7 linked regions of the Homo sapiens genome follow. The protein of the gene in region 6 purifies or fractionates together with the protein of the main gene of each other region. This does not show direct contact. Each region holds a gene or a part of one and is shown on either strand. Other genes may lie near its edges.

Region 1 (3,500 bases), on a different chromosome or scaffold from region 6:
ACTGGAAGGCCCACTCACTGTGGATGAAGCTTGTAGAGTGTCCCGTCCACTCCCACAGTCACATTCAGACGGTCCAGTCCTCTGTTCTCGCGGATCTTATCCACAACCGCAGCCATGCCTGCGCCACACAGCTGTGCGGCCCTCCTGGACACCACCCCGCACACTGTCTTGACGAGGATACTGTCATCGCAGGTGCTATTCAGACCTAGCTGCTGGAGGATAGCCCGGACCTGGAGCAGTGCTAATCGGTCACTGTGGGGGACAAGAGCCAGAGGGCTGGATGAAGCAGGACCCACAAGAGCAGCCTGGAGACCACGTCCAAAGGACGCCCCCCGCCCCCAATCACTGTACTCATCCACAGACAGAGTCAAGGGCAAGTGTTACATGTTAAACTGTGGAGAATTTGGCAAATCTAGCAAAATAAAAATTGGAAAATCTAAACCATTCACTATCTCAACATCTAGGAAAATGCTATTAACATTTTAATATATTTCCTTCCAGTTTATTTTTCCTAGCTGGTATGCTTCTCATGATATGCAAAATGGGATTATCCTTGATATGTGATTTTCTTTCTCTTTCCTGTTTCATGCATTGAGCAATTTCCCACAGCCTTATCTGAGAACAGGATTGGAAACAGCTGCTGCAGTATTCCCTCTAGGGATGCACCATGATTTCTTTAGCCAGCTTGGAGAAATTCAAGTTAATTGCAATTTTCTGCTATTATAAAGAAACATTTTGATAAGGTTTGTTTATAAATCTTTGTGTGCAATTCTGATGTTTTTCCTTAGGATAAATTTCTGGGTCAACGAGCTTTTGCTACACATTGCCAGATGCCTTACAGAAAATTGTATCCATTTACTCTTCAGCAGAGTATTTGGCCACACTTATCCTCACTGGAAAAGAGCATTTTTTTACAACTTTTGACAGTTTTATAAGAAGGCATCACAAGACTGTAGTTCAATTTATATTATTCTCTATTAGTGAGGATGATCTCTTTTTTTTCCATTTGTTTTTTGGCCATATAAACTACTTCTTACGTCTCAAGACTTTTCTCCTGATATATTTGTCTTATTTATATTAAATTGAAAGAGACGATAACTGGGATGGTACAATGAAGACCAGCCAGGCTTCTTGGAGGACTTACCATGTAACATATATTTTACATACATTACCTTACTTACTCCTCAAACAACCAATGAATGTATGATTATTCCCATTTTAAAGATAAGGCAACTGAGGCTGGGAGAAATTGAGTATTGCAAAGCACACAGCCGGTGGAGAAGAGCAGGTGTAGACCAGACCTGCCAAAGCCCACCATGCCCTGCTAGGCGTCTTGTCATACACAGTACAAATGTCTTCCTCAGTTTACCGTTGCCTTTTAAGTTTGATTACTTTTTTTTTTTACTTACAGACACTATGTAGCTATATTTGGCCATTTTTCTTTATGATTTCTTTCTTTGCTATTATGCTTGAAAAGACTTTCCATACCACTTCATACCCATTAGGATGGCTATTCTCAACTCAGAAAATAACAAGTGTTGGCGAGGATGTGGAGAAACTAGAACTTTCACGGGCTGCTGGTGGGAATGTAAAATGTTACAGCCACTGTGGAAAACAACATGGTGGTTCCACAAACAACTGAACAGGGAATTACCATATGATCCCGCAAGTCCACTTGGGGTGCGTACACACACACACACAAACTGAAAGGAGATACTGGTCACCCGTGTTCACAGCAGCATTTGTCACAATATCCAAAAGGTGGAAGCAAGCCAAGTGTCCATGGATGGATGAATGAATAAACAAAATGCAGTGTGTGCATGCAATGGAATATCACTCAGCCTTAAAAATAAGGAAATTATGGCCGGGCGTGGTGGCTCATGCCTGTAATCCCAGCACTCTGGGAGGCCAAGGTGGGCAGATTACCTGAGGTCGGGAGTTTGAGACCACCCTGATCAACATGGGGAAACCCCATCTCTACTAAAAATACAAAATTAGCCGGGCGTGCATGGTGACGCACGCCTGTAATCCCAGCTACTCAGGAGGCTGAGGCAGGAGAATCGCTTGAACCCAGGAGGCAGAGGTTATGGCGAGCCAAGTTTGCACCATTGCACCCCAGCCTGGCCAACAAGAGTGAAACTCCGTCTCAAAAAATAAAAATAAAAAAATAAGGAAATTCTAACACATGCCACAATACGGATGAACCTTAAGACATTATGCTAAGTGAATTAAGCCAGTCACAAAGGACAAATGCTGTATGATTCTATTTATATGAAGTATCCAGAGTTGTCAAATCCATAGAGACAGAGAGTAGAATGGTGGTTGCTGGGGTGGGGGGAGGGAGGAATGTGGAGTTAGTGTTTGCTGCGTACAGAGTTTCAGCTGAGAAGATGAAAAGAGTTCCGGAAATGGATGGTGGTGATAGCTGTGCGACTATGTGAATGTACTTAATGTCACCGAACTGTATACTTAAAAACCATTTTGCCTGGGTAAGAGCAGTGTATAGGCTTGTTAGGTTTTTTTTTGTTTAAGGTTTAATATTTTTTTTCTTTTCTTTCTCTTTTTTTTTTTTTTTTGAGACAGAGTCTGTCTCTGTCGCCCAGGATGGAGTGCAGTGGTGCAACCTCAGCTCATTGCAACCTCCGCCACCGGGCTCAAGCCATCCTCCCACCTCAGCCTCCCAAATAGCTGGGACCACAGGAATGTGCCACCACGCCCGGCTAGTTTTTGCACTTTTTGTAGAAATGGGGTCTTGCCATGTTAACCAGGCTGGTCTCGAACACCTGAACTCAAGTGATTCACCTGCTTTGGCCTCCTAAAGTGTTGAGATTACAGGCATGAGCCACCGTGCCCAGCCTACACAGAGCCTACGTTAGGTTATTATGACCATTCTAAGAAGAACACAGTATTTGCACAATTGCTTTTGTTTTTTCTGACCCTTTTTTCCTCCTTCTCACACAGCGTGCCTTAGAAGACAGCAAAGGCCAGGAAGAAATGTACCCTGGACAGGAGAAAAGTAGAAAGAAGGTGGAACAACTTGCTGAGGGGCATCAGCTCCTGGGTGGCCTGGCACTGAACCCCAGGCTGCCTTTCAGATAAATCCAGGTGGGCCCTATGCACCCCCAATACAAGTATGTGTAGTGCATCTTTACCATCTGAAATGGAATCCATATGGCCCTCTTACACACATAATTTCAAATAAATCAATATAATGCCCCAACATAAAGGATGGATAAAAGGAAAGTAAGTAATTTACTTATTTATTGAGATGCAGTCTCGCTCTGTTGCCAGGCCAGGCTGGAGTGCAGTGGCGCGATCTCAGCTCACTGCAACCTCCACCTCCTGGGTTCAAGTGAGTCTCCTGCCTCAGCCTCCCAAGTAGCTGGGATTACAGGCATATGCCACCACACCCAGCTAATTTTTTGTATTTTTAGTAGAGATCGGGTTTCACCATGTTAGCCAGGATGGTCTCAAATCTCCTGACCTCATGATCCGCCTGC
Region 2 (3,500 bases), on a different chromosome or scaffold from region 6:
AGAGACTGAGTTTCACCATGTTGGCCAGGCTAGCCTCAAACTCCTGACCTCAGGCAATCCGCCCGCCTCGGCCTCCCAAAGTGCTGGGATTACAGGCATGAGCCACCGCACCAGGCTGATAATTGTCTTTTTGCTAATGAAGCAGATGCATGTACAATGATCGAGAGAGTTCATGAATTCAGAAATGCTTAACACACTTTAAAATCTTTATAAAAAATTACAATGAATAAAGAAAAATTTAGCCATCTCCTATTCCTCTTTCCCAGGTAAGCAGTATTAACAGTTTGGGACAAGTAATTTATTTTCTTTTCTTTTTCTTTCTTTTTTTTTTTTTTTTTTTTTTTTTTTTTTTGTGAAGATGGAGTCTCACTCTGTCATCCAGGCTGGCGTGCAGTGGCGTGATCTTGGCTCACTGCAGCCTCCGCCTCCTGGATTCAAGCAGTTCTGCCTCAGTCTCTCGAGTAGCTGGGACTACAGGCACACATCACCACTCCTGGCTAATATTTTGTATCTTTTTTTAAGTGGAAATGGGGTTTTGCCATGTTGCCCAGGCTAGTCGTGAACTCCTGAGCTCCAGCAATCTGCCCGCCTCAGCCTCCCAAAATGCTAGGATTACAGGCATGAGCCACCATGCCCAGCCTCTTTTTTTGTTTTGTTTTGTTTTGTTTTGTTTTTTGAGACAGGGTCTGCTCTGTTGCCCAGGCTGGAGTGCAGTGGCCCGATCTCAGCTTGCTGCAACCTACGCCTCCTGGGTTCAAGCGATCTTCCCACCTCAGCCTCCTGAGTAGCTGGGACTACAGGCGCACTTGACACTCGACCACACCTGGCTAATTTTTTTTTTTTTTGAGACAGAGTTTCACTCTTGTTGCCCAGGCTGGAGTGCAATGGCCTGATCTCGGCTTACTACAACCTCCACCTCCTGGGTTCAAGCAATTCTCCTGCCCCAGCCTCCTGAGTAGCTGGGATTACAGGCATGCACCACCACGCCTGGCTAATTTTGTATTTTTAGTAGAGATGGGGTTTCTCCATGTTGGTCAGGCTGGTCTCAAACTCCCGACCTCAGGTAATCCACCCGCCTTGGCCTCCTAAAGTGTTGGGATTACAGGCGTGAGCCACCGTACCCAGCAATTTTTTTATTTATTGCAGAGACAGGGCTTCAGACTCCTGAGCTCAAGTGATCCGCCTGCCTCGGCCTCCCAGAGTGCTGGAATTATAGGCGTGAGCCACCATGCCCGGCCCATTTCTCATTTTTATGCTTATACAAACATATCACCACTTTGGCCCAGCGCAGTGGCTCATGCTTGTAATCCTAGCACTTTGAGAGGCCGAGGCAGGTGGATCATGAGGTCGAGAGATCGAGACCATCCTGGCCAACATAGTAAAACCCCGTCTCTACTAAAAATACAAAAATTAGCTGGGCGTGGTGGCACACGTCTGTAGTCCCAGCTACTTGGGAGGCTGAGGCAGGAGAATCACTTGAACCCGGGAGGTGGAGGTTGCAGTGAGTGGAGATCATACCACTTTACTCCAGCCTGGCGACAGAGCAAGACTCCATCTCAAATACAAACAAATGAACAAAACAAAACAAACATATCACCACTTTAAGATTATTTTTAAAAAGAAATTTTTTTTTTTTTTGAGACATGGTCTCTGTCACCCAGGCTGGAGTGCAGTGGCCTGATCATAGTTCATTGTAGCCTTGATTTCCTGGGCTTCATGCGATCCTCCTAAGTCTCTCAAGTGGCTGAGACTACAGGCATGTGTCACCACACCCGGCTAATTATTGTATTTTATTTTATTTTATTTTATTTTTTTGAGATAGAGTCTCACTCTGTTGCCCAAGCTGGAGTACAGTGGCAAGATCTTGGCTCACTGCAGCCTCAACCTCCCAGGCTCAAGTGATCCTACCACCTCAGCCTCCCAAGTAGTGGGACTACAGGCACATACCGTCATGCCCAGCTAATTTTATTTTTTGTAGAGACACGGTCTCACAAGTTTCCCCAGGCTTGTCTCATGGCCTCAAGCAATCCTCCTGCCTCAGCCTCCCAAAGTGCTGGGATTACAGGCATAAGCCAGTCATATTTATTATTTTTTTTGTAGAGATGGAGTCTCATTTTGTTGCCCAGGCTGATCTTGAACTCCTGGGCTCAAGTGATCCTCTGACCTCAGCCTCCCAAAGTACTGGGATTACAGGCATTTAGCCATCGTGCCCAGCTGATTTTATCCGTCCCAATGGCTGCTCCATATTTTGGAAAAAATTGATTGATTTTTTATTTGCAAGACATTTGTCCTTTTTTTTTTTTTTTTTTTTGAGATGGATTCTCGCTCTGTTGCCCAGGCGGGAGTGTGATGGTGCGATCTTGGCTCACTGCAACCTCTGCCTCTCAGGTTCAAGCAATTCTCCTGCCTCATGCTCCTGAGTAGCTGGGATTACAGGTGCACACCACCACGCCTGGCTGATTTTTGTATTTTTAGTAGAGACAGGGTTTCGCCATGCTGGGCAGGCTGGTCTCGAACTCCTGACCTCAGGTGATCTGCCTGCCTTGGCCTCCCAAAGTGCTGGGATTGCAGGCGTGAGCCATCACACCCAGCCTAAGACATTTGTCTAACCACATAAAAGTCTTAAAAAGGGATAGGGCAGCCGAGTATTTGTATTGTAAAAATACGAAAATTACCTGGATGTGGTGGTACGCGCCTGTAATCTCAGCTACTCAGGAGGCTGAGGCAGGAAAATTGCTTGAACCCGGGAGGCCGAGGTTGCAGTGAGCCGAGATCGCACCACTGCACTCCAGCCTGAGCAACAAGAGCAAGACTCTGTCTCAAAAAAAAAGAAAAGAAAAAAAGAAAAGAAAGGATAGGGCTTCCTGTGACCTCACTTGGAAAAAACAAAAGAGAAAAAAGAAAAAAGGGATAAGGCTTGCTGCCACTCAGGGATCCCTCTTGCCAGGCTCCCTGGCTAGGAATTGTCTCCATTGGGAGACTTCCTTTTCAGGCCTGGCTGCAAGCTGCACCAAGGCTGTGGAGCGGGAAGATTGGTAGTCTCAAAATAAGCACCCCTGCCTCCTGCTGGGACCTTGGGTATGTGTTTAGGATGGGAGTGCAGTTCTGGTCCAGTAGGAGCTGGCAGCAGACCCTCCACTGCCCTTAACCACAGTGCTCATGGGCAAAGCACATAATCATATTCATTGATCATTCATTCATTCATTCTCAGTATCCTATGGAGATGGGCAGAGCAGGTGTTGGCTGGATGAGTGAATGCATCTTGCTTTGCAGTGCCTTTTACTCCCTCTATCTGCCAAACCAGTCCTGGGGACTGACCAGCTCATCTCCTCCTCTGTAGAGAGTCTGCCCAGGTTGCCAGAAGCAGAGTTAAGGCTAGTTCACCTGGGCTCTTCCAGAGACCCCTCCTATAATTGTGTCCCAAGGCCCATTTCTCCTAGTGGACTATGAGCTCCTCAAGGACAAAGCTTATTTGTATTTGGCTTTCCATGTGTGGGGTC
Region 3 (3,500 bases), on a different chromosome or scaffold from region 6:
CCTGGGCAACAGAGCGAGACTCTGTCTCAAAAAAAAGGTAAAAATTGAGAGAGACTTTAAGAAAAGAATTTGGAATCCACCAAGACATTTTGCATTTAATCAAAATCCCTGACATTTTGTACAGTGGTCCTTTTGTGTCTGTGTGGATTGGTTCCAGGACCCTCCAGAGGATACCAAAATCCACAAAAGCTTAAGTCTCTGATATAAAACGGCCTAGTAAAGTTTACGTGCATATCTGCCTGTATACTGTAAATCATCTCTAGATTACTTATAATACCTAAGACTATGTAAACACTATGTAAATAGTTGTTATACTGTATTGTTTAGGGAATAATGACAAGAAACAAGTCTGTACATGTTTAGTATAGATGCAGTTTTTTTTTTCCTAAATATTTTCTATCCGCAGTTGGTTGCAGAACATGTACATATGGAGGGCTGCCTGTATCCCCTTTCATCCACAGTGTGTCATACTCCACGTGGTCTTAGATGTTCCTTCTGTTTCTTCCTGATCTGCCAAAACCATTTAAACATGCTCAGGTCTCCTCTAACTTGAGAACATTAAAAAGAAAAAAAAATCCTCCCTCATTTGTTTTTCCAGCTACTCCCAACTGCCTCATATTTGAAGCCAGAGGCAGACTTCATGAATGAGCCCTTCACTTTTTACTTCGTTTAACCCATTGCAGTCAGTGTGAGACTATCCATATGTTCTACCATTTATTGGAACTTTTCAAAAGTTCAAAAACAAACTTTTCAAAAACAACCTGTTTGTTGCTTAAATATAATGGACAGTTTTTGTTCTTGACCAACGTTACATAACTTTAACCAGTTTTTCTTGAAATAGTCTATTCTCTTGGCTTCCATGATGGCATATTCCTAAGATTTTTCTCCTACCTCAGGCGATTCCTCTGTTTCATGTTTTTTGAGTGTCTGATATGTACTATACATTGTTATATAGCACTAAACAACAAAAATTCATTAACTCTTGGTGCTTACATTCTTGTATGGGTTTTTTTGTCTAGTTGTTTGGGAAATGTTGGTGTTACTATATTTTGGATATAATATATAATATGTATGGCCCTTCTATAGGCTCCTCAAACAGAACTCAACCATTTTCCACAAAACCAATTCCTCCTTTCCCTTCATGACTGAGTGGTGTTAGTACTATCCAGGAAACTGGGACATTATCCTTCACATCTATCCCTTATCTGCCTTGTCCAATTAATGTCTTTTAGCTCTTAAATGTCTTTATTAACTATCTACCTCCATCTGTACTGCCAGCATAATTAATGCAACCATATGTCACAAAGAGTATTGCGTTAACCTTCAACAAATCTGTTTGTTTCCATTCTTGCTACTTCTCCTTAGGAAAATAAGCTATTTCTAGCACCTGACAGAGGACATACATAGTGCACATAGTACTCAAATATTTGAGGGGATGAATAGCAACCATGACACTATTATCTTTGTCTTAACTCTCTCTCTAGACTGTAAATTCCATGAGAGTAAAGAGTGTGTCCTGTTTCCTGTTAATATCCAGTATGTAGTACCTTTATGTTGTAAGTGGTCTATAACTAGTTGGTGACAGTATGAAGGAACAACTTTTTAATGTAAAAATAGAGATGTTCTTACCATCTTCCTTTTTCTATTGTCATCCCAGTTCTTATAAATGAAGGAACTGAGGCTAAAGGCACAGATTAGTTGTCTGTTTTTGTACTTTAATTACATGAAATCATACACTGAAATATTCTTTTATGTAAGTTCTTTCAACATGGTGAGATTCATCCAGTAGCATGCTGGAACTGGTTTGTACTGGCTCCTGAGAATTGGTTGTTAAATTTTCGGGAACTTTGGCAAGCTGGTTTTTAAAGTGTTGGTAGTTGGCCGGGTACGGTGGCTCATGCCGGTAATCCCAGCACTTTGGGAGGCTGAGGCAGGCGGATCATGAGGTCAGGTGATTGAGACCATCCTGGCCAATATGGTGAAACCCTGTCTCTACTAAAAATACAAAAAATTAACTGGGCATGGTGGTGTGCACCTGTAGTCCCAGCTACTTGGGAGGCTGAGGCAGGAGAATTGCTTGAACCCAGGAGGCGAAGGTTGCAGTGAGCTGAGATGGCGCCACTGCACTCCAGCCTGGGGACAGAGCGAGACTCGTCTCAAAAAAAAAAAAAAAAGAATTGGTAGCTTTACACCATGGAAACTGACAAACATTAAAATTAGAGCTTTTTATAGGGAGTGCTGGTTTACCAGCACATCATTGCACTTAACCACATTGTTGCATGTAGTTGCCCTATAGTTTTCCTCTGTGTGAATACACCAGTTTATCTATCTGAACTGTGCATTGATAATTGGTAGTTTTCAATTTTCACTGTTACAATTAGTTTTGCCAAGAATATGGTGCCTTTTTGATAGACATTTTGCTGGGTCATAGATTTTGTATATATTTATTTAGCTTTAGTAGATATTACCAAACTATTTAGACCAATGTATACTCCTACATTCTCACCAACACTAGCTATTTTTATGTCTTTTATGTTTTAGCCATTGTGGTAAATAAACACTAATATTGATTGCATTGTGGCTTGAATTTGTATTTCCCTGTAACCAATGAAGTTGAAGACCTTTCCATTTGTTTATACTTCATTTCAGCATATCTTTTTCTGTGAAGTATCTGTTTAAGTCTGTTAACCATTTTTCCATTGTATTGTCTTTTTTCCTATTGGTTTTGTGAGACTTCTCTGTATACTTTGGAATTGAGTCTTTTGTCAGATATAGATATGGTGATTATTTTTTCCCCACTCTGTTTAACTGTAGTTTTCAGTGTTAATAGAGTCCAATTTATCAGGTTTCTTCTTTCTAATAGGTGCTTTTTGTTGACTCTTTAAGATCTTCGTCTACTCTAAGGACACAAAGATGGTCTCATGCTTTCTTCTGTAAAATTTTTTAAAAAAATCTTTCATATTTAAATTTTTAAGCCATCTGGATTATTGTTCGATGTAGGATCAAGGTACATTTTCCCCTGTTAATGGATATTAATTGACCCAGCACTATATTTGAAAGGACTATGCTGCAGTGTTGTCTTTGTCATAAATCAAGTGTGCAGGTGTGGATCTGTTTCTGGACTCTTAGTTTTGGTCAGTTTGCCTATTCTTGTACTTAATACCAGACTGTCTTAATTACTACAGCTTTATCATGTAGATTTTGCTATCTGGTGGTAGTCAGTTCTATAATACGATTCTTCAGTGTTGCCTTGGCCCTTTGTGTTCCACATGACTCTTAGAATAAGCTTTTCAATTTTTGTAAAACTTTGATTTTAATTGGGATTGCATTGTATTTATAGGTGAAGTTATGGAGAATTGCCATCTTTAGAATATTGGGTCTTTCAATTCTCAGTAAGTTTTATAACTTGTCAGTGTAGAGATCTTTCATATCTTTCATTAGATTTGTTCCTGGGTTTTGAGCGTTTTTTTTTTTGGTGCTATAATTAATTCTGTCTTCTA
Region 4 (3,500 bases), about 68 Mb from region 6:
TGAAAAATTGTCTTCCACAAACCTGGTCCCTGGTGCCAAAAAGGTTGAAGACCGCTGTCCTAGATGCTTAATTTGCCTCACCCTAGTCCTGGCCCTGAAGAGAAAACTTTGCATCTGTTCACCCCAAATATCCCCTGTGATAGGGGAAGGGAATGTGTACCTCTGCTTATTTTTCATTTGTAAATTTGGTGTCTTAATTATCCTATATGGGCTTTTTGGTTTTTTTGAGACAGGGTCTCGTTATGTTGCCCAAACTGGTCTCGAACTCTTGGCCTCAAGCAATCCTCCTGCCTCGTCTTACCAAAGCGCTGGGATGATAGGTATGAGCCCATGCTTGGCCTATATGGATTTTTTTTTTTTTTTTTTTTTGAGATGGAGCCTTGTTCTGTTGCCCAGGCTGGAGTGCAGTGGCATGATCTTGGCTCACTGAAACCTCCACCTTTCAGTTTCAAGCGATTCTCCTGCCTCAGCCCCCCAAGTAGCGGGACTACAGACATGTGCCACCACACCCGGCTAATTTTTGTATATTTAGTAGAGATGGGGTTTCACCATGTTGCCCAGGCTGGTCTCGAGCTCCTGACCTTGTGATCCACCCACCTCGGCCTCCCAAACTGCTGGGATTACAGACGTGAGCCATGACACCCAGCTCCTGTATGGACTTTTGAAGCTTGTTATTACTTGATAAACAGGAGCTAAGCAAAAAATGTTCTTTCTTCTGTTTTTTAAAATTGAGGTAAAAATTCATGTAAAGTTAACCATTTAAAATGGTACGATTCAGTGGCATTTAGTGTATTTGCAATGTTGTGCAACTAACACTTCTTTTTCAACACCCCAGAAAAACACACATAGCCATTAAGCAATCACTCCCTATTGCCCCCTCCTACTACTTCTTGATAATCTCCAGCTTAGTTTTCTGTATCTCAGTGGATTTGCCTGTTCTTTATTTATCCTATGAAAGGAATCATGCATTATGTGGCTTTTTGAGTCTGGCTTCTTTCACTTAGTATAATGTTTCTGAGGTTCATTCAAGTTGTAACATGTGTCAGCACTTTGTTCCTTTTTTATAACTCAGTAATATTCCATTGTGTGAATATACCACATTTTATTCATTCATTCATTGATGGACTGCTGGATTGTTTCTCCCTTTTGACTATTACAAACACTGCTGCTGTTAACATCTATATGCAAGTTTCTGCATGGACGTGTGTTTTTATTTCTTTGGGGTGTATAACTAGGAGTTGAATTGCTGAGTCATTTAGTAATCGTATGTTTAACTTTTTGAGAAACCACCAAACTGTTTTTCACAGTGGCTGCTTATTACATTCCCACCAGCAATGTCCAAGGGGTCCCATTTTTCTACATCGTTGACAATACTTGTTATTTTCTATTAAAAAATTATTATTAAAGACATCCTAGTCTGTGTGAAATGGTATCTCATCGTGGTTTTGGTTTGCATTTCACATGCCAGTGGTTAGCCATTTGTATATCTTCTTTGGAAAAATATCTGTTTAATTTCTTTTCCCATTTTTAAATTAGGTTATCTTTTTGTTGAGTTGTAAGTGAGTTATAGATTCCTTGTATATTCTGGATATTAAGCCCTTATCAGATAACTGTTTTGCAAATATTTTCTTCCATTCTATACATTGTTTTCACATCCTTGATAATGCTGTTTGAGGCCTCAGAGTTTTTAAACAATAAACAATATTTGGACTCATGAGTTTCCATCATTGTGTTTTGTTGGCTAGGAGACAGCTGTTGCAATCCCTTAAGCATGGGTGCTATTAAAAAAATGGTGGAGAAGAAAATACCTGGAATTTACGTCTTATCTTTAGAGATTGGGAAGACCCTGATGGAGGTAAGGCGCTTCACAGCTGTTCCTTTGAAGGGTTGCTGACTGATTTCATAGCATATACTGTTAAAATGCTTTGCCTTGTGTTTTCAGCAGCAGATCATACAGTGATACTTTCACCCTTGAGTGGCTCATGTGAGGATACCAACCTAAATGAGTTTACCTCTTAGAGAAGATGTCAGTGGTTGTTTTCAGTCCCATCCTCTCACTTCTCTCTGGCTTCTTTTTTAGGACGTGGAGAACAGCTTCTTCTTGAATGTCAATTCCCAAGTAACAACAGTGTGTCAGGCACTTGCTAAGGATCCTAAATTGCAGCAAGGCTACAATGCTATGGGATTCTCCCAGGGAGGCCAATTTCTGTACGTTCCTTTTTGTTATATTGTACCACTTATATGGAATTGATTTTTGTTTCTTTTATTCAGATAAATCCACTCCTCCAATTCAAGATTGTCACCTATCTTGGAAGGGAAATTTCCTAAAATGTTCCTGTGTAAGAAGCTTTATGGAACTTAATTTCTTTTCTTTTTTTTTTTTTTTTGAGACAGAATTTCTCTCTTGTTGCCCAGGCTGGAGTGCAGTGGCGCGATCTCAGCTCACTGCAACCTCCACGTCCCAGGTTCAAGTGATTCTCCTGCCTCAGCCTCCCGAGTAGCTGGGACTATAGGTGCTCACCACCACACCTAGCTAATTTTTTGTATTTTTAGTAGAGATGGGGTTTTACCATGTTGTCTAGGCTGGTCTCGAACTCCTGACCTCAGGTAGTCCACCCACCTCAGCCTCCCAAAGTGCTGAGATTACAGGTGTGAGCCACCATGCCTGGCTGGAGCTTAATTTATTTTCTATGAAAGTTGAAAGAAATATTTGCATTTGCCCATATCAGGAAAATCCTGAAACTCTGCGGGTTTGGGGAGTCACAGAGGATGACTAGCTTAATCTGTGATGCTGATTGTGGATGATACATTTCCATCTGACAGTCGGAGCTAAAACTCCCTTTTATTCCGTAGGAGGGCAGTGGCTCAGAGATGCCCTTCACCTCCCATGATCAATCTGATCTCGGTTGGGGGACAACATCAAGGTAACTTTGCCTCTTTGCTTTCTTTTTTCTGTATTCTAACCCACATGACCACCTGATTTAAAAAAAAATCTAGGAACTATATTTGCACAAGACATCAGCCATTCTTGCAAAATCCTGTTTCTCTAGCTTTTAACAAACTAGCCAGCATTGCTGGAGACATAGGAAGAGACTTAGGATTCCAGAGGCCTGGATCACTAGGTTGGCATCTACTTCTCTCCAATTTCATTGACACGATTGCATGGAAGTAAGATGGTTATAGCCACGTGGCAGGTGGTGGTTGAGGAGTTAGGAAAATTGAGTGACCTTTTCTGTTCTCTGATTTGGTGGTATCCTCTTGAATTTAGGCTTAGGCAAAGAATAGTGTGTAAGCTCTTGTGTCTATAAATTTAAACTCTTTGAGAAACAGCAGGTTTTCTATTTTGACGGAATTCCATACTATTGGGGAAGGATGTGTCATTAGAATGGAATTTCATCTCTGTTGTTGATGGGTATAGCTATTAGCTGGTATAATGTGGGAGCAGAATGATTCTCCGTGTAATCAGGAAACCTGGACTCACCCAATTAACTATTACTCCT
Region 5 (3,736 bases), on a different chromosome or scaffold from region 6:
GGGTTATTTCTATTCCAAATGTCTTTGGTGACTGTGTGATTTTAAACCAAATTGGTTTATCTATCTAGGCATTTAAACAAGTTCTCAGTGTTCTAAAGAAGTACATGTACTGACCCTGACAATCATGTTCTTTTAAGCCTTTAGATTATTGACTATCCAGGTTGTTCCACAGAGTCTCTTTTTTTCCCCCTTCTTTCTTGAAGATCTGTGAGTAATGGACTAATTGCTATTAAATTTGGGAGCTTTACATATGCCACAACAGAAAAAGTCAGAAGAAGGTAAGTCTTGAATCTTGTTTGGATGAAATGTAGATACATGTGATATGTGTATATGTTTAGGAATAGGATCAGACTCAGTTACGGTGGTAATATAGGTAAAAGGGCTTTGCCACTTCCCACATCAAGGGCAGGATTCTTTGTGTATTTATACATAGAGAATGATTTGACTTGTGATTGAATAGAACCTTACTGCCCTGCAGTTTATGTCGTACGGTTTCCTATAATTAATACTCCTGAGCTCCCTGTTGACAAAGAAAGTAATGTGGTTCCCATGGGCAGATGGCCTGCAGGGCTGAAGTTCTTGTTACGACCAAAAAAAATTATGAGGTGATGCCATTCTTAGTGATGGGAGATTTTCTTAGGATTCAAAATGGTAACAGTACCTAAGCCATCCCTGAGGCTTCGCAAGGGAAAGAAGTGACTAATCATAGGCTGATCTTTTTCTCACTTTTTTCCTCACATAAAATAAGTTTTTTTATGATAAAGTCCTTGGAGTTGCTGTGCCTATTTTTCATGTGTAGTATCTTATTTTTATTTCTCAGTCTAGTCAACTCTGCTGAATGTGTATATAAGGTGTCATTCATAGAATTTCCACAGGCTTAAGGCCTAACCATTGATGGCCAGGGGCTTTCTAGAACTGAAACAACTTCACAGATTTTTGGGGGTCATGATTACCCATTTTTAAGATTTGGTTATATATGTGAATAATCAGTACAAAAAGTAACTGATTTTAATACAAACCAATGATATATTTTAAATGTTATTGTACAGAATGTCACTTAACTTTTAAATTTTTTTCTGCTTGCTGCCAGTATAACATGCATACAATATTTTCTCAGTAGTCACGATCATCTTTGATATAACAAAACTTATTTTAATTCTAGCATCTACAGTTGTTTAGATGCACAGTTTTATGATGATGAAACTGTAACAGTAGTTCTTAAAGACACTGTAGGACGTGAAGGAAGAGATAGACTCTTGGTCCAGCTGCCTTTGTCTTTAGTATATAACAGTGAAGATTCTGCAGAATATCAGTTCACTGGGACTTATTCTACAAGGTAACTAGTAACATTGTCTTTCTGATATTACAGTTAAATGTTTTTTTAATGCACATTATAAATTCCAACCTTTTAGGTACGCTAGATAATGGTTATTTCGTTACTAGAGATAACCACAGAGGTAGCTGAGCAGAAATGCTCCAATTTTTCATTCAAAATATGCTGGCCTTAATAGCTTTTTTTGTCCCTTTGCTTTACTAGTAAATCAGGAAGTATTTGCTGGAATCAAGGTGGGGAATTATTTGGAGTGGATAATGGGACTTCTTTTAGTTACATTTTTAAGGATAGCATTAACCCTAGTTGGTTGGAATTAGTTATTTTTGATTTGCCTTCAGTATTTTCCTTCCAGAATTAAGACCTCAGTACCCATGTAGGAAGTATACTGTCAATTCCAAGAGATGGCTTTAATTGACTGAGACTTAAGTAAGCAGATCTCTAATTTAAAAATGTATCCATTTGCTTTCTTTGAAAGGGAGTCAGAAACCTTGCTAAGATGATATTCTGCCTGTTTGGAATTACAGTATTTCTTTTCTTTTTTTTTTTTGAAACAGGGCCTCTCTTTGTCACCCAGGTTGGAGTGCAGTGACGCAATCATAGCTCACTGCAGCCTCCAACTCATGGGCTCAAGTGACCCTCCTGCCTCAGCCTCTCATAGCTGGGACTACAGGCATGTGCCACCTTGCCTGACTAATTTTATTTTTTTACAGAGATAGAGTCTTACTATGTTGCCCAGGCTGGCCTTGAACTCCTGGACTCAAGCAATCCTCCCACCTTGGCCTCGCAAAGTGCTGAGATTCCAGGCATGAGCCACTGTGCCTAGCCAGAATATAGAATATGGAATTTTTATAGAATATTATATCACAGCTTTTTTTCTAACACAACAGTTGCTAAAATTATATTGGAAATAGAAGTATGAGTAGAAGTCAAAACCATAATTGACCCTAATACCACCTGTAGTAAAACTAGGGAGGATAAGATCCCCTTTTCATTCCTGAGTTGGTTTTTTTCCCTCTTTAGGCTAGATGAACAGTGTAGTGCTATTCCCACCCGTACCATGCATTTTGAGAAGCACTGGAGATTACTGGAAAGTATGAAAGCACAGTATGTTGCTGGGAATGGTTTTCGAAAAGTGTCCTGTGTGGTAAGTGTTTAGAGATCGTTCAGCAACTAAGAAATTACAAGAAGTAACGTTGCTTCTTTGGAACCTTCATCAAATACATGATATATAAGGTCCTTTTGTGCAAATATTTTTACTGTGATTTATAGCTTGTATTGATTATGATCATGTGGTGGCCTTAGCTATTTAGTTCTTGTTCTGATAAAGCTTACTAAGTAGTTAATAATAATACTAGATTTTAATCTCACGAAATTGCCACTGTTGTTATGTGGAGATCTTTTTATACAAAATGAAGGCTGAATTTATTGATTTTGTTGTAAATTGATGGGAATATAACTTTCCTATAAAACCATTCTTTGATTCAGACTTCTGATTTCTAATTCTTTATATATGATAAGCCATTAATTTAAAAATGCTTTTATGGCCTTTTCTTTTTTAGTTAAGCTCAAATCTTCGTCATGTGAGAGTATTTGAAATGGACATAGATGATGAATGGGAGCTCGATGAGTCTTCAGATGAAGAGGAGGAGGCCAGTAATAAGCCTGTAAAAATAAAGGAAGAAGTGTTGTCGGAGTCAGAGGCAGAGAACCAACAAGCTGGTGCTGCCGCTTTAGCTCCAGAGATAGTCATTAAAGTGGAAAAACTTGACCCTGAGCTAGACTCCTAATCTAGCTTGCCATTATTGTGTGTGTAATTATGGCCAAAAGGACATAGGAGATGGACTAAGATGTCTTGGACCACCTTTGTGTAACAAAGAAATAAACAGTAAATTTTATTTTTTCATATTCTGCTTCATCTTCTCTTAGTGATATAGTCACTATGATAGACTTTATTTTTTCTGAGCTTTCTCTTTAATGCTATGTGCAGAACTAGTGTTTAAAGAAAACAGGGCCAGGCATGGTGGCTCATGCTGGTAATCTCAGCACTTTGGGAGTCTGAGGTGGGTGGCTCACCTGAAGTCAGGAGTTCAAGACCAGCCTGGCCAACATGGCAAAACCCCGTCTCTACTAAAAATACAAAAATGAGCTGGGCGTGGTGCATGCCCCTATAATTCCAGCCACTTGGGAGGCTGAGGCATGAGAATCGCTTAAACCTGGGAGCCAGAGGTTTCAGTGGGCTGAGATTGCGCCATTGCACTCCATCCAGCCTGCGTGATGGAGTGAGACTCTGTCTCAAAAAAGAAAGAGAGAAGGTGAACAAATTGAATATGAAGAAAAAGTCTAATCTTTTCTGTCAGAAGGGTAGGTATCAGGAATTGTTCCTGTATCATTGAAATAGTCGCT
Region 6 (3,500 bases):
CTAGAAATATCATTTGACCCAGCCATCCCATTACTGGGTATATACCCAAAGGACTATAAATCATGCTGCTATAAAGACACATGCACATGTATGTTTATTGTGGCACTATTCACAATAGCAAAGACTTGGAACCAAGCCAAATGTCCAACAATGATAGACTGGATTAAGAAAATGTGGCACATTTACACCATGGAATACTATGCAGCCATAAAAGATGAGTTCATGTCTTTTGTAGGGACATGGATGAAATTGGAAATCATCATTCTCAGTAAACTATCACAAGAACAAAAAACCAAACACCGCATATTCTCACTCATAGGTGGGAATTGAACAGTGAGAACACATGGACACAGGAAGGGGAACATCACACTCTGGGGACTGTTGTGGGGTGGGGGGAGGGGGAGGGATGGCATTGGGAGATATACCTAATGCTAGATGACGAGTTAGTGGGTGCAGCGCACCAGCAAGGCACATGTATACATATGTAACTAACCTGCACATTGTGCACATGTACCCTAAAACTTAAAGTATAATAATAAAAAAAAAAGACTCAAAGGCACAGTCACTGACAGTTTGATTTTTTATAATAGCTGTTAATTTTCCTAACTTCGAGGAAGTTGATAGCATGTTTTGAGTATATTTCAAAACTACATTCAAATGTTGCAATAGAACATTAAGAATTATCTTCATGATCCACTAAGTGCATGAAAAAAATGGATAATGAATCTATTCATTACCATCGTTTAATATTTTATCTTCAAGTTTTTGTGTTTTGTAGCTCATTGGCAGAGTTTGACAGAGTGCTGAAAGTATTCTTTAGTGAGCTGGCTGTAATTTTTGGGCCCATTTTTATCTAGATAATTAAAACTATCTGACAGGACCATAAAATGCTTGCTGCCATTTCCAACAACCTATATTTGTGGATGGGGTTTTTTAATTTAATGAGAATATTATGTTAGAAAAGAAACTGTCATTCTGTAAAGTGGCCAATAATGTTAGTTTTATTTATCAATTTAGTTTTGTACTTTGATCATTTTTTTAAAATTTCAGCATTGATGTTGATGGGACAATGACAGTGGACTGGAATGAATGGAGAGACTACTTCTTATTTAATCCTGTTACAGACATTGAGGAAATTATCCGTTTCTGGAAACATTCTACAGTAAGTCTACTTTATGTATTTATACTTATTTGGAGCTATAAACCATAGGTACAGTTATCACCCAAGAACACTCTGTAACACTTATGGGCCAGGATACCTGAGTCCCAGTAGCTCCTTAACCTGTAGAGTTCTATTTATTCTATTAGGCATAGATTTATAGAGTATTAAACAAAAAAAAACAGCTCTCCCTCTCCCTCTCCCTCTCTCTCCCCCTCCCCACGGTCTCCCTCTCCCTCTCTTTCCACGGTCTCCCTCTGATGCCGAGCCAAAGCTGGACTGTACTGCTGCCATCTCGGCTCACTGCAACCTCCCTGCCTGATTCTCCTGCCTCAGCCTGCCGAGTGCCTGCGATTGCAGGCGCGCACCGCCACGCCTGACTGTTTTTCGTATTTTTTTGGTGGAGACGGGGTTTCGCTATGTTGGCCGGGCTGGTCTCCAGCTCCTGACCGCGAGTGATCCACCAGCCTCGGCCTCCCGAGGTGCTGGGATTGCAGACGGAGTCTCGTTCACTCAGTGCTCAATGGTGCCCAGGCTGGGGTGCAGTGGCATGATCTCGGCTCGCTACAACCTCCACCTCCCAGCCGCCTGCCTTGGCCTCCCAAAGTGCCAAGATTGCAGCCTCTGCCCAGCCGCCACCCCGTCTGGGAAGTGAGGAGCGTCTCTGCCTGGCCGCCCATCGTCTGGGATATGAGGAGCCCCTCTGCCTGGCTGCCCAGTCTGGAAAGTGAGGAGTGTCTCTGCCCGGCCGCCATCCTGTCTAGGAAGTGAGCGTCTCTGCCCGGCCGCCCATCGTCTGGGATGTGAGGAGCCCCTCTGCCTGGCTGCCCAGTCTGGAAAGTGAGGAGCGCCTCTTCCCGGCCGCCATCCCATCTAGGAAGTGAGGAGCGTCTCTGCCCGGCCGCCCATCGTCTGAGATGTGGGGAGCGCCTCTGCCCCGCCGCCCCGTCTGGGATGTGAGGAGCGCCTCTGCTCGGCCGCCCCGTCTGAGAAGTGAGGAGACCCTCCGCCCGGCAGCCGCCCCGTCTGGGAAGTGAGGAGCGTCTCCGCCCGGCAGCCACCCTGTCCGGGAGGGAGGTGGAGGGGTCAGCCCCCCGCCCGGCCAGCCACCCCATCCGGGAGGTGAGGGGTGCCTCTGCCCGGCCGCCCCTACAGGGAAGTGAGGAGCCCCTCTGCCCGGCCACCACCCCATCTGGGAGGTGTACCCAACAGCTCATTGAGAACGGGCCATGATGACAATGGCGGTTTTGTGGAATAGAAAAAGGGGAAAGGTGGGGAAAAGATTGAGAAATCGGATGGTTGCTGTGTCTGTGTAGAAAGAGGTAGACATGGGAGACTTTTCATTTTGTTCTGTACTAAGAAAAATTCTTCTGCCTTGGGATCCTGTTGATCTATGACCTTACCCCCAACCCTGTGCTCTCTGAAACATGTGCTGTGTCCACTCAGGGTTAAATGGATTAAGGGCGGTGCAAGATGTGCTTTGCTAAACAGATGCTTGAAGGCAGCAGGCTCGTTAAGAGTCATCACCACTCCCTAATCTCAAGTACCCAGGGACACAAACACTGCGGAAGGCCGCAGGGTCCTCTGCCTAGGAAAACCAGAGACCTTTGTTCACTTGTTTATCTGCTGACCTTCCCTCCACTATTGTCCTGTGACCCTGCCAAATCCCCCTCTGCGAGAAACACCCAAGAATGATCAATTAAAAAAAAAAAAAAAAAAACAACCCAAGACTGCATAAATGTCCATTCTGAAAACTTGGAAGAAGTACCACCTTGATGAATAAGCTGTCTAGCTTTTATTGGCATTTAAGTATTCTGCCATAGGGAAGTGTAAAAGTTGTAGGCTTTTACTTTTTATAGGTACTATATTGTCCAAATAATCTCAGCACCTCATGGTTGCTAAGGATCTGTGTCCTTGTTTGGTCAGATTATGTTTATCTCTGGCATAAGGCACTTAACAATATTCATTAAAGGTTACAGAATCTTTTTGCTTCATCTGCTTAGCATTTCATACCAGTTTGTTTTCCACCAAACTTTCAAATTTTGATTGTTTCATTAATATTCTGCATACTGATGTAAACCAAGTTCTATTATTGTGCAATCTGCTCCTGAAACCCTTAGGAACTCTCTGAAGGAGTTTTATTTATTTTTTGTTTTTGTTTTTGTTTTTGTTTTGTTTTTTTGAGACGGAGTCTTGCTCTGTTGCCCAGGCTAGAGTGCAGTGGTGCGATCTCGGCTCTCTGCAAACTCGGCCTCCGGGGTTCACGCCATTCTCCTGCCTCAGCCACCGGAGTAGCTGGGACTACAGGCACCCACCACTGCGCCTGGCTAATTTTTTTTGT
Region 7 (3,500 bases), on a different chromosome or scaffold from region 6:
AAAAAAAAAAAAAAAAAAAGAACTCAAACCAAAAATTCCATAAACAAAGAGGTTCTCAAGTCTTGCTGAATCACACTTTTTATACTGCACTGAATTAGAATATCCAGGGGTAAGGTCCAGGAATGTGTATTTTAAGGAATCTGCCCAGGTAATTCTGATGACCTTGCTGCCATTAAGGTATTTAGTTAACAGGTACAAGCGAGAATGCGTTCAGAGTGAAACCCCATTATATACAGCACATCTCAATTGTATCTAGAAGAGGCAAATAATGCTTTATAGAAATAGATCTGCTGGGAGCGTGGCTCATGCCTATAATCCCAGGACTTTGGGAGGCTGAGGTGGGTGGATCCCCTGAGCTCAGGAGTTCGAGATCAGCCTGGGCAACATGGTGAGACCCCGTTTTCTACCAAAAATACAAAAAATTAGCTGGCGTGGTGGCACACACCTGTGGTCCCAGCTACTTGGGAGGCTGAGGTGGGAGGATTGCTTGATTCTGGGAGGTGGAGGTTGCAATGAATCGAGATCATGCCACTGCACTCCAACCTGGGTAACAGAGTGAGACCCCCCATCTCAAAAAAAAAAAAAAAAGAGAAAAGAAAAGAAATAGATCTATCTACAATAAAAACCTGATAAAGAATAGCTTTATTGTAACTTTCTAACCCAATTCTATGAATGGGCTTCAGAAGACCCTGTCAGCAATTCTGCAAGTGTCATCCAGGCATAGTTACCTATATGAGCATCATGGGTGAGATGAAGGCGCATGGGAGGCAGGGTGGATGTATTTGAGGCCCTGCCTTCAACCTACTGAAAGAAAATCTCTGGAAGTGGAGCCCAAGAGTATATATATACATTTTTAACAACTCCCTGGAAAATTCCAGAACATACTAATATTTGAGAGGTTCAGTTCTCGGTTCTAGTTTTGGGTTTGCTATGAGCTAGTTCTATAACCTTGGTCAAATAACAACATTTCTCAGGTACTTCATCTATATCATGTACAGACTGGGTCATCTCCAAAACACCTCCTAGCTCTAACATGATATGATTCTAACTAAACACAACATTTCACCTTCTTTGCAGAGCTGTAAATATCTTCTCGGTTGCTGCAGTCTACCACAAAGGTATGAACCTTGGCACCCAGTCCCTTGCATTTGGCAGCTGTTTCCTCCAGTCCATGCTAGAAAAAGCAAAAAAGAGGGCAAGGTAATAATTGATATGAACATATTATATCGACAGCTGAAAATAATTAAAAATAATTTTTAAAAAGTAGTGAGATTCTTTCCATTTGAATTGGGCAAGATTGTTAACAACACATTTTTGGCAGGTATATAGGCACATTTTGCTTTTAGTATTTTGACTAGCTTCTTTTATTTGGAGCTGAATTTAAAGCAAGCTTCTTAAAAGAAGATAAAAATCTTAAAATACTAGTTTTTATATTTATGAACTTTGAATACTTTGTGAATGTTGGTATCTCTGTGTATTCCATATCAGGCTTTAAAAAATGTAACATTAAACTTTTTTCCATGTCATTAAAAACTATTCATGGATGTCAGTTTACTGTCTGCAAAAGAAATAATGAGTTAACCACAGTTCATTAAACCATTTGTTCTTTCAGCATTTTAATGTGAAGGTCATATTCACTGAGCTTAGAAAAACCTTGACACAAATATGAATGAGGTAGAGTCCCGACCCCAAGAAGTTCTCTGTGTAGTAGAAAGAAACATAAGTATCATAGTTAAGTAGGACCACGTAATACTGTTATTGTTTTGATAATAAAAGATTGAATATTGGCAGTTTCAACCTAATACATTGTGATGAGTATCACAGCAGAGTTCTATACAGGGAGTTACGGGAACACAGAGGGGCACACAATACAATTCCAGCAGTGGTTTGCCATGCCCTTTCACTTGCTTTCCCCAGGGTGAAAGGACACATCAGGCAGGGTGTGGGCAATGACAGATAGGAGATTGGTCTTGTGGAAACCACTAGTAGGATTAGTGTTGTTGGATGGATCATAAAGGTCAAGGCCAGAAGAAGTTCAGATTAAGGTCCCACATGTCATATTAAGATTTATCAAAAAATGAATGAGGAGCCACTGATTAAATTATAGTGTCAGGTTTATGTGTCGTATTGATTATTTTGGCTGATGTATGGAGGGTGGATTTTAGGGGTCAACACTGGAGGAAGAAAAAAACTGAGAGGCAGTTACAGTGATTCAGGTAATAGATGACACAAACTTGAAATGTGGCATTAGTAGAAAAAATGTAGAGGAAAGAATATCCTTTAAAATATATGTTTAGAAGGTAAAATCAGTAAGACTTGGTGAGTAGATGAGGAAGGATGGGAAGGAGCCACATCTGACATCTTTGCTTTCTAGTTTTGGTAGCTGGCAAGATCACGCTGCCACATGTCAGACAGAGATGACAGCAGATTTGAGGAAAAGGGGTTATGAGTCCAATTTGGGGCGCCAATTTTGAGTCAACTTAAGTTTAGGATCATACCATTGGGGTTTTTTGTTGTTGTTGTTATCTTTGCTTGTTTGCTTTTGGCCAATTTTTGCCTTTTTTTTTTTTTAACTTTTAAGAGAATGTCTCAAAAGATATTTTGGATGAAGATCTAGTATTGTGCATTCTGCAGGCCAAGTATTAGGTTGTTGGAAAAGTAATTGCTGTTTTTGCCATTAGTTTAATGACAAAAACTGCAATTACTTTTGCATCAACCTAATAATTGTCAACTAATGCACTAATGGGCAGACCCTAGGAGGACTCATACATTTATCCACAGAGAGGATGGTGAATCAGTGTACACATTTGTAAATGGCAACTAATGTTGGAAAGGCCAAATCTGGACAGCTGTGGGGAGAATTAGTAGCTTGCATAGTGAAACTGTTATGATAATAAAGGGAAACAAGTTCTTTTTCTCCTGTGGGAAGTCAGGGACCCCGAATGGAGGGACCGGCTGGAGCCGCGGCAAAGAACATAAATTGTGAAGATTTCATTTTAATATGGACATTTATCAGTGCCCAAATAATACTTTTATAATTTCTTATGCCTGTAATCTCTTAATCCTGTTATCTTCATAAGCTGAGGATGTACGTCACCTCAGGACCACTGTGATAATTGTGTTAACTGTACAAATTGATTGTAAAACATGTGTGTTTGAACAATATGAAATCAGTGCACCTTGAAAAAGAACAGAATAACAGTGATTTTTAGGGAACAAGGGAAGACAACCATAAGGTCTGACTGCCTGTGGGGTCGGGCAAAAAAGAGCCATATTTTTCTTCTTGCAGACAGCCTATAAACGGATGTGCAAGTAGGAGAGATATTGCTAAATTCTTTTCCTAGCAAGGAATATTAACATTAATACCTTGGGAAAGGAATGCATTCCTACGGGGAGGTCTATAAATGGCTGCTCTGGGAATGTCCGTCCTATGTGGTTGAGGTAAGGACTGAGATACGCCCTGGTCTCCTGCAGTACTATCAGGCTTATTAGGGTGGGGA

The links.
Region 1: the proteins of SLC25A24 (region 6) and HK1 purify together in Homo sapiens (co-immunoprecipitation; one large-scale study listed by IntAct). This does not show direct contact.
Region 2: the proteins of SLC25A24 (region 6) and NIPSNAP1 fractionate together in Homo sapiens (co-fractionation; one large-scale study listed by BioGRID). This does not show direct contact.
Region 3: the proteins of SLC25A24 (region 6) and OCIAD1 fractionate together in Homo sapiens (co-fractionation; one large-scale study listed by BioGRID). This does not show direct contact.
Region 4: the proteins of SLC25A24 (region 6) and PPT1 purify together in Homo sapiens (co-immunoprecipitation; one large-scale study listed by IntAct). This does not show direct contact.
Region 5: the proteins of SLC25A24 (region 6) and ANAPC4 purify together in Homo sapiens (co-immunoprecipitation; one study listed by IntAct). This does not show direct contact.
Region 7: the proteins of SLC25A24 (region 6) and HSD17B11 purify together in Homo sapiens (affinity purification with mass spectrometry; one large-scale study listed by BioGRID and IntAct). This does not show direct contact.

The regions. Positions count from the first base shown.
Region 1 is NC_000010.11:69,395,347-69,398,846, reverse strand, and holds part of HK1 (hexokinase-1), read right to left. Parts: intron 253-3,500; coding exon 19-252; intron 1-18. UniProt on the Homo sapiens protein: Catalyzes the phosphorylation of various hexoses, such as D-glucose, D-glucosamine, D-fructose, D-mannose and 2-deoxy-D-glucose, to hexose 6-phosphate (D-glucose 6-phosphate, D-glucosamine 6-phosphate, D-fructose 6-phosphate, D-mannose 6-phosphate and 2-deoxy-D-glucose 6-phosphate, respectively).
Region 2 is NC_000022.11:29,571,114-29,574,613, reverse strand, and holds part of NIPSNAP1 (protein NipSnap homolog 1), read left to right. Parts: intron 1-3,500.
Region 3 is NC_000004.12:48,844,588-48,848,087, forward strand, and holds part of OCIAD1 (OCIA domain-containing protein 1), read left to right. Parts: intron 1-3,500. UniProt on the Homo sapiens protein: Maintains stem cell potency. Increases STAT3 phosphorylation and controls ERK phosphorylation. May act as a scaffold, increasing STAT3 recruitment onto endosomes. Involved in integrin-mediated cancer cell adhesion and colony formation in ovarian cancer.
Region 4 is NC_000001.11:40,090,753-40,094,252, reverse strand, and holds part of PPT1 (palmitoyl-protein thioesterase 1 isoform 1 precursor), read left to right. Parts: intron 1-1,745; coding exon 1,746-1,855; intron 1,856-2,080; coding exon 2,081-2,208; intron 2,209-2,853; coding exon 2,854-2,924; intron 2,925-3,500. UniProt on the Homo sapiens protein: Has thioesterase activity against fatty acid thioesters with 14 -18 carbons, including palmitoyl-CoA, S-palmitoyl-N-acetylcysteamine, and palmitoylated proteins. In contrast to PPT2, PPT1 can hydrolyze palmitoylated proteins and palmitoylcysteine.
Region 5 is NC_000004.12:25,415,263-25,418,998, forward strand, and holds the end of ANAPC4 (anaphase-promoting complex subunit 4), read left to right. Parts: intron 1-137; coding exon of another isoform or gene 138-144; exon of another isoform or gene 145-203; coding exon 204-278; intron 279-1,162; coding exon 1,163-1,336; intron 1,337-2,353; coding exon 2,354-2,477; intron 2,478-2,892; coding exon 2,893-3,120; 3' UTR 3,121-3,236; downstream 3,237-3,736. UniProt on the Homo sapiens protein: Component of the anaphase promoting complex/cyclosome (APC/C), a cell cycle-regulated E3 ubiquitin ligase that controls progression through mitosis and the G1 phase of the cell cycle.
Region 6 is NC_000001.11:108,158,844-108,162,343, reverse strand, and holds part of SLC25A24 (mitochondrial adenyl nucleotide antiporter SLC25A24), read left to right. Parts: intron 1-1,050; coding exon 1,051-1,162; intron 1,163-3,500. UniProt on the Homo sapiens protein: Electroneutral antiporter that mediates the transport of adenyl nucleotides through the inner mitochondrial membrane. Originally identified as an ATP-magnesium/inorganic phosphate antiporter, it also acts as a broad specificity adenyl nucleotide antiporter.
Region 7 is NC_000004.12:87,381,189-87,384,688, forward strand, and holds part of HSD17B11 (estradiol 17-beta-dehydrogenase 11 precursor), read right to left. Parts: intron 1,175-3,500; coding exon 1,067-1,174; intron 1-1,066. UniProt on the Homo sapiens protein: Can convert androstan-3-alpha,17-beta-diol (3-alpha-diol) to androsterone in vitro, suggesting that it may participate in androgen metabolism during steroidogenesis.